Homo sapiens: one gene and its partners. The protein of the gene in region 1 purifies or fractionates together with the protein of each later gene. This does not show direct contact. Each region holds a gene or a part of one and is shown on either strand. Other genes may lie near its edges.

Region 1 (3,747 bases):
CATTTTTGCCAAACATTAAATAAAAAGCATGGTAGAATTTGAGGATGCACTTTAAATCATCAAATAGTTCCAGGGAATGAAAGAGCAGAACTTTGGGTTGTTTTTCTGTGCCAGGAGAGAGTGGTGGGGGGCGGAGGAGACCCTTGTTAGAAGATGATGTATTTTGAGATTACTAGATTCACAGAAGATGCACGTGAATATACTCTAACCATTTAAAATTATGTTTCTGAATGCTGCCTTAAAAAATACAACAAGTTATTATCATAATAAAGTGAGGGAGAGTGGAGGGGTAATTATCCAGACAGCCCATTCCAAAATCTATCATATAAATTATCTCCAGATTGTACACTACTTAAAGGTAGAAGAGGATCTTTGAGTTTAACCCTTGTACACTTTGTGATTGTGCCTGTCACTCAATAAATAGTTGATTAATTTGGGGGACGCACCAGGAGCAGTGTTTCCTATCTGAAAGGTGGACCACCGAACTCAGAGGCGGCCCTCTGAGACCAGCAGGATGCAAGTGCGACGACCAATACAAATATCTGAGCATTCAATGGAGTTTTTCCAAACTTCTAGCCTGTTTCTGGGGTGATTTTTTTTCTTAGGATTTAGCAGTACTCCACCGCGCTACAGCAGTTAGCATTTCTAAAGCACACACTCCAACACCCTTCGGCCGTAGCACATTCAATCCCTCCGCCGGGGCGTGGGGGTCTCCTCCCCTCCGAGCACAGTCCCCGGCTTCCCGATCTCCTCTGCCCCATCCCCCCGCCTTCCAAGCACATTGTGCTCACTCTTCCAGGCAGCTCTTTCAGCGGCCGGGCAGTAGCAGGGTTCCGAGCCCGTCTTCTCCGGGGCGGTCACACGTGTCCATTCCCTGGGGTTGGGGATCGCTCTTCCCGCTTGGCTGCTGATTGGTGCCTCCCCCTACCCCACCCTTCCCGCCGCTCTCCAGCCTCCATCCTACTTCGTTCCAGCTCAATCAGCCCCACCGCCTTCTTCCCTCGGAGAAAAAAGCCACTTCAGAGCTCCTTGGGCGCCGTTCTCGGCTGGAATAAAAGCGTTAAGAAACAGGTGGAAAGCACTTCACTTCTCTAGGCTTCATATTTCTAGGGTGGACAGCCCGCTCCTGCTCCGGCTCTGCCCTCGGCATCAATAATAACTGAACTCCCACACGTGCACGTTTCTGTCTCTAGCCCGACCGAAAGGACCACCCCGCGGGCCCTTTAAAAGGACGCGACCACTCAGGCCAAGTGGGGGTGGGAGAGCTCCTGGCCGTCCTCCCTTGGGAAAGTGCTTCAACTCCCCAGTCCCAAAGTCCTGGAGGGCGGAGGGCGCCTCGTGAGAGTTCTCGGGGGTGCGGCCCGCGCCCCCTGGGTCCTGCGGATCTGGGCCCGGGGGCGCGCGCCCCGCCCCTCCCCCTCCCTGGCGGTGCAGCTGTCCGGGCGGGGGTGGGGCGGGGGCGGGGGTTGTTGTTGTGGCGCGGGCAGCCCCGCCCCCTCCTCGTGGGCGGCCCCTCCCCCAGGCCCCGCGTCCGGCCCCTCCGCCCCTAGCCCCATCTGTTTCTCCGGCGGGGACTCGATTATATTGTAGGGGACTGGGGGCGGCCGCCGCCGCAGCCGCGGGATGGGGCGAGCGCGCGGACCCCGCGGGCAGCCGCAGCCGCAGCCGCCTCAGTAGTTCGGGCCCCCGCGCCGCCGCCCCCCGCCCGGCGCCCGCCCTCGGCTCCTGCACTCGCCGAGCGGCGGCAGCAGCGGGAGGAGCGCCCCGCCGCCCCCGCCGAGGACCGCGCGGAGGCTGCGGCGCTGCCGCGGCGGGAGTCCCAGGTCGGCGGGCAGAGCGCGGGCAGCGAGGGGCCGCCGCCTGTGCCGCAGCGGGGAGATGTGCCCAGAGGAGGGCGGCGCGGCCGGGCTGGGCGAGCTCCGCTCCTGGTGGGAGGTCCCGGCCATCGCGCACTTCTGCTCGCTCTTTCGCACCGCGTTCCGCCTGCCCGACTTCGAGATCGAGGTGAGTGGCCGCGCGGGCGGGAGGCGGCGCGCTGCGCCCCCTGCTCCCCCTGCCCCGCGCGGGGTGTCCCGGGCCGTCGCGCAGAGGGGCCGGGGCCCGAGGGACTTCGGCCGGGAGTCGGGGGCCAGGAGGAGGGCGCAAAAGGGCAGGAGGGCGGGCGGGGGCCGCCGGGCTGTGCCCGGGTGCCGAGGGGCGTCGGGCCGGGGACGCCGGATCCTGGGGTGGAGGAGCAGGCACCGCGAGGGCGGGGCGGGCCCGTGCTTTTGTGGGAGAGGGAGCGGGAGCGGGACCCGGCGACCCTCCCGGGACTTCTCCGGTGGGCTGGGGCTGGGTGTGGGCGCGAGGGCTGCGCGCGCTCGCCGCCCGGTGCCATTGAGGCGCGAGCCAGCTGCTCCGGCGGGGCCGGGCGCGGGGGGGGGGCCCGCGCGGGATTAACTCGGACCGGGGCGGGAGTCGGCCGCGGCCGGCGGGGAGGGCTAGCCCCGCTCTGGCGGGCGGGCGCGTGGCAGGGGCTCCCGGAGGCCCCAAGCTCCCGGGAGGCGCTCCGGCCAACTTCGGGCCGGTGGGGACCGGGCCTGGGCGCGGGGCTCTGGAGGTGTGGAAGGAAAGTTTGGGACTCCGTTATTCTTCCACAGCGTCCTTCCTCCCGTAATATCCAGCCTCTTTATCGCGGGGCTCGGGAGCCCTTGGAGTTGATCTCGCCACCATTATCCCCCCGGGCGAGCGCGGAGGACGGGCTGGCCATTCTGGCCAGGCCGGAGGTGTTTTCCAGCCCGGGGCTTTGTGATAACTGGGCCGAAACCCGAGGGTCCTGGAGCGCGGCGGGTGGCGGGAGCTTGCGGAGCGCGGCGCACTCGGCGGCCAGGCATCGGCCAGCCCAGCGGCAGCCCCCTTTCTCCTATTTTTATTTTTATTTTTGGAAGGAGCTGAGAATTAGTCGATTGGTTGGCAGGTTGAATTGCCTTCTCTTCTATGGCAATATGTGTCGTGACTTTTCACCTTTTGCCTTTGGACAAAGGTGAATGGCAACTGCGTTGGTCAGTTTTTGTTTTCTGTTCTGCGGATGGGTTCGCCGACGCAGTAATCAAAATTAGAGCCACTCTTTTGGAAGAGCAAATCGTTGTTGTTGCCTCCCCAGCCCCACGGATCTTACTTTGTGCCATTTTCGGGTTGATTTTAACTCGTTTATTTCAGAGCTCTTTGCCTCACCTTTATTTTTAGATTTAGTCGTGTTTGCTGAAATATCAGTTGCTTCTTCTGTGAATGAAGTGTGGGAACTTGCTCTCGTCGCAGTTAATGAAATCAGGAAAATAAAAAGATCAAAAGGGTTGGGGATGGGAGAATGAAGAGGAATGTAGACAGATAGTCTAGGGCCACTCACTGGCTTTTGGCGATTCTTAGTTCCTTAAGCTGATTAAAACAATGTGAGGAAATGTGGGCTTCTCCACTTTTTAGGAAGAGGTAATAACGGGCATTTTACGTGGCGCCACAGCGTTTGTTTTCAAAGTTTGAACGTGAATGTAGCAAGCATAATTTTATTAATGAAAATATTCTTTAGACAACTGTTAATATTGACGAAAGAAGAGAAACAGAGACACGGAAGCTAAAGAGTTGGGAATCCTAAAGGTCAAAGGATGTTTCTCAGTTACTCTGATGTCCTGTGTTTTCTTTCAGTTGGTACAAAATCGTGAGTAGTTTAATTATATCCTGCAGTCAAAATGGTGGCTGTGGTGGGAGGTGCCG
Region 2 (3,647 bases), on another chromosome or scaffold:
CATGGCCTTGTGATTATTTGAATGCAACCTCCCTGAACCGCAGCATCTTCACTTTTCACCTGTTTGTTTTTTCGAGACAGGGTCTCTCTGTTTCCCTGGCTGGAGTGCAGTGGTGTCATCATAGCTCACTGCAGCCTCAACCTCCCAGGCTCAAGCGATTCTCCCGCCTCAGCCTCCTGAGTAGCTGGGACTACAGGTCCCAGCTAATTTTTGTATTTTTAGTAGAGATGGGTCTCGCTGTGTTGCCCAGAATGGAACTCCTGGCCTCAAGCAATCTTCCCACCTCTACCTCCCAAAATGTTGGGATTACGGGTATGAACTACTGTGCCCAGATGGTATCTTCATCTGTTAAATGAAAATAACCATGGAGAGCTGGGGGTTCCAAAGCACTTAGGATGTAGTAGGTGAATTGAGAGATCTAGTGTCATAATTATTATCATCATTCATTGCTGAACGCAGTCGGCTTCAGTTGCAAATAAAGCAAACATGATTCAAACTGCCTTAAACAATCAGGGAGGTTATTGGTTCATGAAACCTGCAGTTAGGGGATGGGGTACACTTCATGTCAGTTCAAACCAGTGGCTCAATGTTGTCATCAAAGACTCAGATTCTTTCTCCCTTTCCATTCTACCATGCTCAGGTTAGCCTCATTCCAAGCTTTAGGATCAGGGCTCTGTGCTTCCTCACTCATGTTCAGAGAAGAGAGAGAGGTTAAGAGTAGGAAGCTGGCACTGCAGCCTCAACCTCCTGGACTCAAGGAATCCTCCTATCTCAACTTCCCAGGTAGCTGAGACTACGGGTGTGTGCCACCACACCAGGCTAACTTATATATATAATATATATGTAATATTATATATATGTATTACTATATATATGTAATATTATATATATGTATTACTATATATGTAATATTACATATATATTACTATATATATGTAATATTATATATATTACTATATATATGTAATGTATTACATTTTTTTGAGATGGTGCAACCTCCACCCCCTGGGTTCAAGCAATTCTCCTGGCTTAGCCCTCCGAGTAGCTGGGATTACAGGCATGCACCACCACACCTAGCTAATTTTTGTATTTTTAGTAGAGACGGGGTTTCACCATGTTGGCCAGGCTGGTTTCCAACTCCTGACCTCAAGTGATCCGCCCACCTCAGCCTTCCAAAGTGCTGGGATTACTGGCGTGAGTCACCGCGCCCAGCCAATTTTATATTTTATTTATTTCATTTTATTTTATTTTATTTTTTTTATTTTTGTAGAGAAAGGGTCTCACTTTGCTGTCCAGACTGGTCTGGAACTCCTGGCCTCAAGCAATCCTCCTGTCTCTTCCTCTCAAAGTGCTGGGATTATCGGTGGGAGCCACCTCGCCCAGCTGCATTTTTCTTAAAGGACTGTAGGAAGAAACTGAACAATTTTTTGTAGGAAAAATGAAAGATAGTCCACATGTTTTAAAAAAAAACAGAAAGAAACATATTTATCTGTGGCAGTAAAGACTACCTCAGCTCACTTCACTCATTTGAATTACCCGCCTGGCCCCTGAAACCTCTATGCTTTAGCAGGATATATCTGTAATAGACGAAACTGATATAAACATATCAACCTGAAAATATTAACGGTTTACATGCAATACAAGTTTATTCCTTGATCACTTAACAGTCCATGACAGACGTTCCAGGTCTGTGGGCAGCTCTCCTCCAAGTGATTATCCAGGGACTCAGGACTCTTCTTGGGGCTCCACCACCCCAGGGCCGCTTCACCCCACGCATCCAGCCAACCAAGGGAGAGTGTGAGGAGGCGGCACAGCTGCCCCAGTCCGAAGTAGAGCAGGTCACATGCACTTAAACCCCATTGGTGAGAACTAGTCACATGGCCACATCAAGTTGCAAGGAAGGCTGGGAGATGTAGTTCCGGCTGGACCAGCTCTTCCCAGCTACAACTCTATTATTGTGCAAGGGCAGAACAGATTTTGGTGGGTAGCAAACCATCTCTATCTTGCATGAAAATGCTGGGGAGACCTCCTCAGGCATTTAAGTCACAGACCGCTTTGATTCTTTCTTAGCCAAGTAGTGAATATGCAGGAGATTTGGGGATTTCACCAAATTCCATTCATTTCTTCCAGGCATGGAAAATTTGAAGCATATTATCACCCTTGGCCAGGTCATCCACAAACGGTGTGAAGAGATGAAATACTGCAAGAAACAGTGCCGGCGCCTGGGCCACCGCGTCCTCGGCCTGATCAAGCCTCTGGAGATGCTCCAGGACCAAGGAAAGAGGAGCGTGCCCTCTGAGAAGTTAACCACAGCCATGAACCGCTTCAAGGCTGCCCTGGAGGAGGCTAATGGGGAGATAGAAAAGTTCAGCAATAGATCCAATATCTGCAGGTTTCTAACAGCAAGCCAGGACAAAATACTCTTCAAGGACGTGAACAGGAAGCTGAGTGATGTCTGGAAGGAGCTCTCGCTGTTACTTCAGGTTGAGCAACGCATGCCTGTTTCACCCATAAGCCAAGGAGCGTCCTGGGCACAGGAAGATCAGCAGGATGCAGACGAAGACAGGCGAGCTTTCCAGATGCTAAGAAGAGGCAAGCTGGGTCTTTGGTGGGGAGTGGGAGTGCAGTTGAATGCATTTTAGTCTCACTTTAATTTACCAAAGGAGCAGCAATGATGAAGTTTGAGCAGTTGTAATATACTTGTACCTCAAAACTCCTAGCTGGGCGCGATGGCTCTCGCCTGTAATCCCAGCACTTTGGGAGGCCGAGGCGGGCTGATCACTAGGTCAGGAGACTGAGACCATCCTGGCTAACACGGTGAAACCCCGTCTCTACTAAAAATACAAAAAATTAGCCGGGCATGGTGGCGGGCGCCTGTAGTCCCAGCTACTCGGGAGGCTGAGGCAGGAGAACAGCGTGAACCCGGGAGGCAGAGCTTGCAGTGAGCTGAGATCGCGCCACTGCACTCCAGCCTGGGCGACAGAGCGAGACTCTGCCTCAGAAAACAAACAAACAAACAAACAAACAAACAAAACTCCTAACATCCTTTGGCCCAGATATATGGTGGGGGCTGGTGAAATTTGGGCAAGCCAGCGTTGAAGAGGAGTTTTGTTTTGTTTTGTTTCATTTTTTGAGACAGGGTCTCTGTTGCACGGGCTAGAGGACGGCGGCACAATCATAGCTCACTGCAGCCTCAGGTTCAAGTGATCCTCCCACCTCAGGCTCCCGAGTGGCTGGTACTATAGGTGTGCACGCCACAATGCCCAGCTAATTTTTATTTTATTTTTTGTAGTTAGAGAGTCTCACTATGTTGCCCAGGCTGGTGTAGAACTCCTGGCCTCAAGTGATCCTCTTGCCTCAGCCTCCCAAAGTGCTGGGATTACAGGCACCTAGGAGGTCGAGGCTGCAGTGAGCCACGATTTCTCCATTGCACTGCAGCCTGGGCGACAGAGCGAGATCCTGTCTCCAAAAACAAAGGATGGAGGGGGCCGGCGTGAGAAGTAAATCTCCCTCCTTGACCTCAGGGGCCCCTGTTTCCCTTTCTGAGGACATGAGACCTTCAGTACTAAAACTGGGGAAGTCTGATGGAAACCATATAGACAAAATGATAATCTCATCCATTGTTGGTAGGATATTTGTGCAACCTT
Region 3 (3,647 bases), on another chromosome or scaffold:
AAGGGCACTGATCGGTACATACTATATGATTCCATTTATATGAGGCTCAAAACAGGCAAAGCAAGTCTCTGGTGGCCAATGTAAGCCTGGGCATCTCCTCTGGCTTTGGGAGGGGGTTGGCACAGGGAAGCCCACAGATGCCTCACAACCAGAAATGTTCTGTCTTGATCTGGGTGGCGGTTACATGGGTATAAATATATGTCAAAATTTTTTCAGGCTATGTATTTAAGATCGGTGCCCTTTTCTGTAAGTTATATCTAATTGAAGAAAAAAAAGAAGGCTGAAGAAGTGGCTCATCCTGTAATCCCAGCACTTTTGGAGGCCATGGTGGGAGGACTGCTTGAGGCCAGGAGTTTGAGGCTACAGTAAGCCATGATTGTGCCACTGCACTCCAGCCTGGCAACAGCAGATACAAAAAGTTGAACTGCTGAACGTTTGAAGATTTTTCATGTTGTCACTTTTTCACCTTTTCCCTTTTCATCCATTAGTTCATCTTTCACCCAGGTGGGCTGTAAGTGCTGAGAAGGCAGGGACCCCGTCCCAGAGTGACCTTGGTCCCCCAGGGATGCAAATGGCACCACGAGGTCTCAGACGCAGCAATGGCCTGAGAGCTCAGCAGCTCAGGCTCAGTGCCCCACTGCACCCCATCTCCTCATCTGCTGAAATACAGCCGTCCTAAGAGAAGAGACCAACATTCACTGAGCATCCACTCCTTGCCAGACACTGTGACTATCCCATGTGATTCCCATGATGACCCTAAGCGGGAGGAACTCATCCCCACTGGACAGATGGAGACACTGGAGTGTGGGGAAGGCAAGTGGGGACTTCTAGCCACATAATGGACTGAGCCGAGGAAGGCTCTCTTCTCCAGCTCCAGATACAGAAATGCTGGGGAAAAAAAAATAGCACATAGCTTGAAAAAGGAAGAAAAGGGGGAAGGAAAATCCTCAGGAGGCAGCATTGATGAGGGAATCTAAAACCAGAGGGGCCCACAGGAGCTGATGCAGAGAGGAACGCCTGCGACGGCAAGCCAGGTACAGGTTCAGGCTGAAGCTGGTTTCTTTTCTTTTTTGAGATGGAGTCTTGCTCTGTTGCCCAGGCTGAAGTACAGTGGCGCAATCTCAGCTCACTGCAACCTCCGCCTCCTGGGTTCAAGTGATTCTCCTGCCTCAGCCTCCCAAGTAGCTGGCATTACAGGAGTGCGCCACCATGCCCAGCTAATTTTTGTATTTTTAGTAGAGAGGAGTTTTTGCCATGTTGGATAGGCTGGTCTCAAACTCCTGACCTCAAGTGATCCACCTACCTCGGCCTCCCAAAGTGCTGGGATTACAGGCGTGAGCCACCATTCCCGGCCAGAAGCTGGTTTCTTTTTATGAGACAGAGTCTTACTCTGTCACCCAGACTGGAGTGGTTTGATTATAGCTCACCGTAATCTTGAAATCCTGGGCTCAAGTGATTCTCCCACCTTAGCCTCCCAAGTAGCTAGGACTACAAGCATGCAGCACTATGCCCAGCTAATTGTTTGTTTGTTTCTAGAGATGGAGGTCTCACTATGTTGCCCAGGCTGTCCTCAAACTCCTGGACTCAAGCGATCCTCCCACCTCAGCCTCCCAACGCACTGGGATTACAGGCGTGAGCCACCATACCAGGCCTGCTAAAGCCACCACACCAGGTCTGCTGAAGCTGTTTTAAGGTACACATTTTGCCTTGGAGCTATGGAAGGGATAGAGAAAGACAGTCATTCATAAGAAATGTGAATTCAAGTCAAATCTGAGCCAGGTCTAAGTGGGGATCTGAATTTATAGTATAAGAATTGTAAACCAAGAAATCAACATAAAAACTGGCCTAGAATTAGTTGAACCCCTAGTGTCCTGAAAACACCATGCCATGCTGTGGAAACACTTCCGCGTGAATCTCCAACAGAAAAACAAAAAACTCGGCCGGGTGCGGTGGCTCATGCCTGTAATCCCAGCACTTTAGGAGGCCAAGGCAGGCGGATCACCTGAGGTCAGGAGATCGAGACCATCCTGGCTAACATGGTGAAACCCCGTCTCTACTAAAAGTACAAAAAAATTAGCTGCGCGTGGTGGCGGGCACCTGTAGTCCCAGCTACTTGGGAGGCTGAGGCAGGAGAATGGCGTGAACCCGGGAGATGGAGCTTGCAGTGAGCCAAGATTGCGCCACTGCACTCCAGCCTGGGCGACAGAGAGAGACACTGTCTCAAAAAAAAGAAAAACAAAAAACTCCTGTTGAAGATGAGTTCACTAGTGAGAACTACAAATGACAAGAAAAAGGCTGGGCACAGTGGCTCACACCTGTAATCCCAGCACTTTGGGAGGCCAAGGCGGGTGGATCACTTGAGGTCAGGAGTTCGAGATCAGCCTGGCCAACATGATGAAACCCCGTCTCTAATAAGAATACAAAAAATTAGCCGGGTGTTGCGGCGCACGCCTGTAATCCCAGCTACTCAGGAGGCTGAGGCAGGAGGATCACTTGAACCTGGGTGGCGAAGGTTGCAGTGAGCTGAGATCACGTCACTGCACTCCATCCTGGGCAAACAGAGTGAGAGTCTGTCTCTGTCTCAAAAAGAAAGTGTCAGGCGTCTGAGCCCAAGCTAAGCCATCATATCCCCTGTGACCTGCACATATACATCCAGACGGCCTGAAGTAACTGAAGAATCACAAAAGAAGTGAAATTTAAATGGTCTGTTCCTACCTTAACTGATGACATTCCACCACAAAAGAAGTGAAAATGGCCGGTCCTTGCCTTAACTGACGACATTACCTTGTGAAATTCCTTCTCCTGGCTCATCCTGGCTCAAAAAGCTCCCCCACTGAGCACCTTGTGACCCCCACTCCTGCCCGCCAGAGAACCCCCCTTTGACTGTAATTTTTCCTTTACCTACCCCTATCTTATAAAACGGCCCCACCCATATCTCCCTTGGCTGACTCTCTTTTTGGACTTAGCCCGCCTGCACCCAGGTGAAATAAACAGCCTTGTTGCTCACTCAAAGCCTGTTTGGTGGTCTCTTCACTCGGATGCGAGAGAAAAGAAAGGAAAGAAAGGAAAGAAAAAGAAAAGAAAGAAAGAAAGAAAGAAAAGAGAAAGAAAGAAAGAAAGAAAAAGAAAGAAAGAGAGAAAGAAAGAAAGAAAGAAAGAAAGAAAGAAAGAAAGAAAGAAAGAAAGAAAGAAAGACAGACAGACAGACAGACAGACAGACAGGCCAGGCGCGGTGGCTCACGCCTGTAATCCCAGCACTTTGGGAGGCCGAGGCAGGCGGATCATGAGGTCAGGAGATCGAGACCATCCTGGCTAACACGGTGAAACCCCATCTCTACTAAAAATACAAAAAATTAGCCTGGCGCGGTGGCGGGCACCTGTAGTCCCAGCTACTTGGGAGGCTGAGGCAGGAGAATGGCGTGAACCCAGGAGGCAGAGCTTGCAGTGAGCCAAGATGGCGCCACTGCACTCTAGCTTGGGCAACAGAGCGAAACCCTGTCTCAAAAAAAAAAAAATTAAGAAAGAATATATATAATATATATGAAATATATATATGGAAAAATATATATATGAAATATATATATGGAAAAATATATATGTGGAAAATATATATTTCCTTGTATATATATATTTTCCTTGTATATATA

What was found.
Region 2: the proteins of CECR2 (region 1) and MLKL purify together in Homo sapiens (affinity purification with mass spectrometry, with the first as the bait; one large-scale study listed by BioGRID). This does not show direct contact.
Region 3: the proteins of CECR2 (region 1) and ALPL purify together in Homo sapiens (affinity purification with mass spectrometry, with the first as the bait; one large-scale study listed by BioGRID). This does not show direct contact.

Annotation. Positions count from the first base shown.
Region 1 is NC_000022.11:17,367,906-17,371,652, forward strand, and holds the start of CECR2 (chromatin remodeling regulator CECR2), read left to right. Parts: upstream 1-1,554; 5' UTR 1,555-1,878; coding exon 1,879-2,004; intron 2,005-3,747. UniProt on the Homo sapiens protein: Regulatory subunit of the ATP-dependent CERF-1 and CERF-5 ISWI chromatin remodeling complexes, which form ordered nucleosome arrays on chromatin and facilitate access to DNA during DNA-templated processes such as DNA replication, transcription, and repair.
Region 2 is NC_000016.10:74,694,243-74,697,889, reverse strand, and holds part of MLKL (mixed lineage kinase domain-like protein), read left to right. Parts: intron 1-2,130; 5' UTR 2,131-2,132; coding exon 2,133-2,592; intron 2,593-3,647. UniProt on the Homo sapiens protein: Pseudokinase that plays a key role in TNF-induced necroptosis, a programmed cell death process. Does not have protein kinase activity.
Region 3 is NC_000001.11:21,554,364-21,558,010, reverse strand, and holds part of ALPL (alkaline phosphatase, tissue-nonspecific isozyme isoform 1 preproprotein), read right to left. Parts: intron 1-3,647. UniProt on the Homo sapiens protein: Alkaline phosphatase that metabolizes various phosphate compounds and plays a key role in skeletal mineralization and adaptive thermogenesis.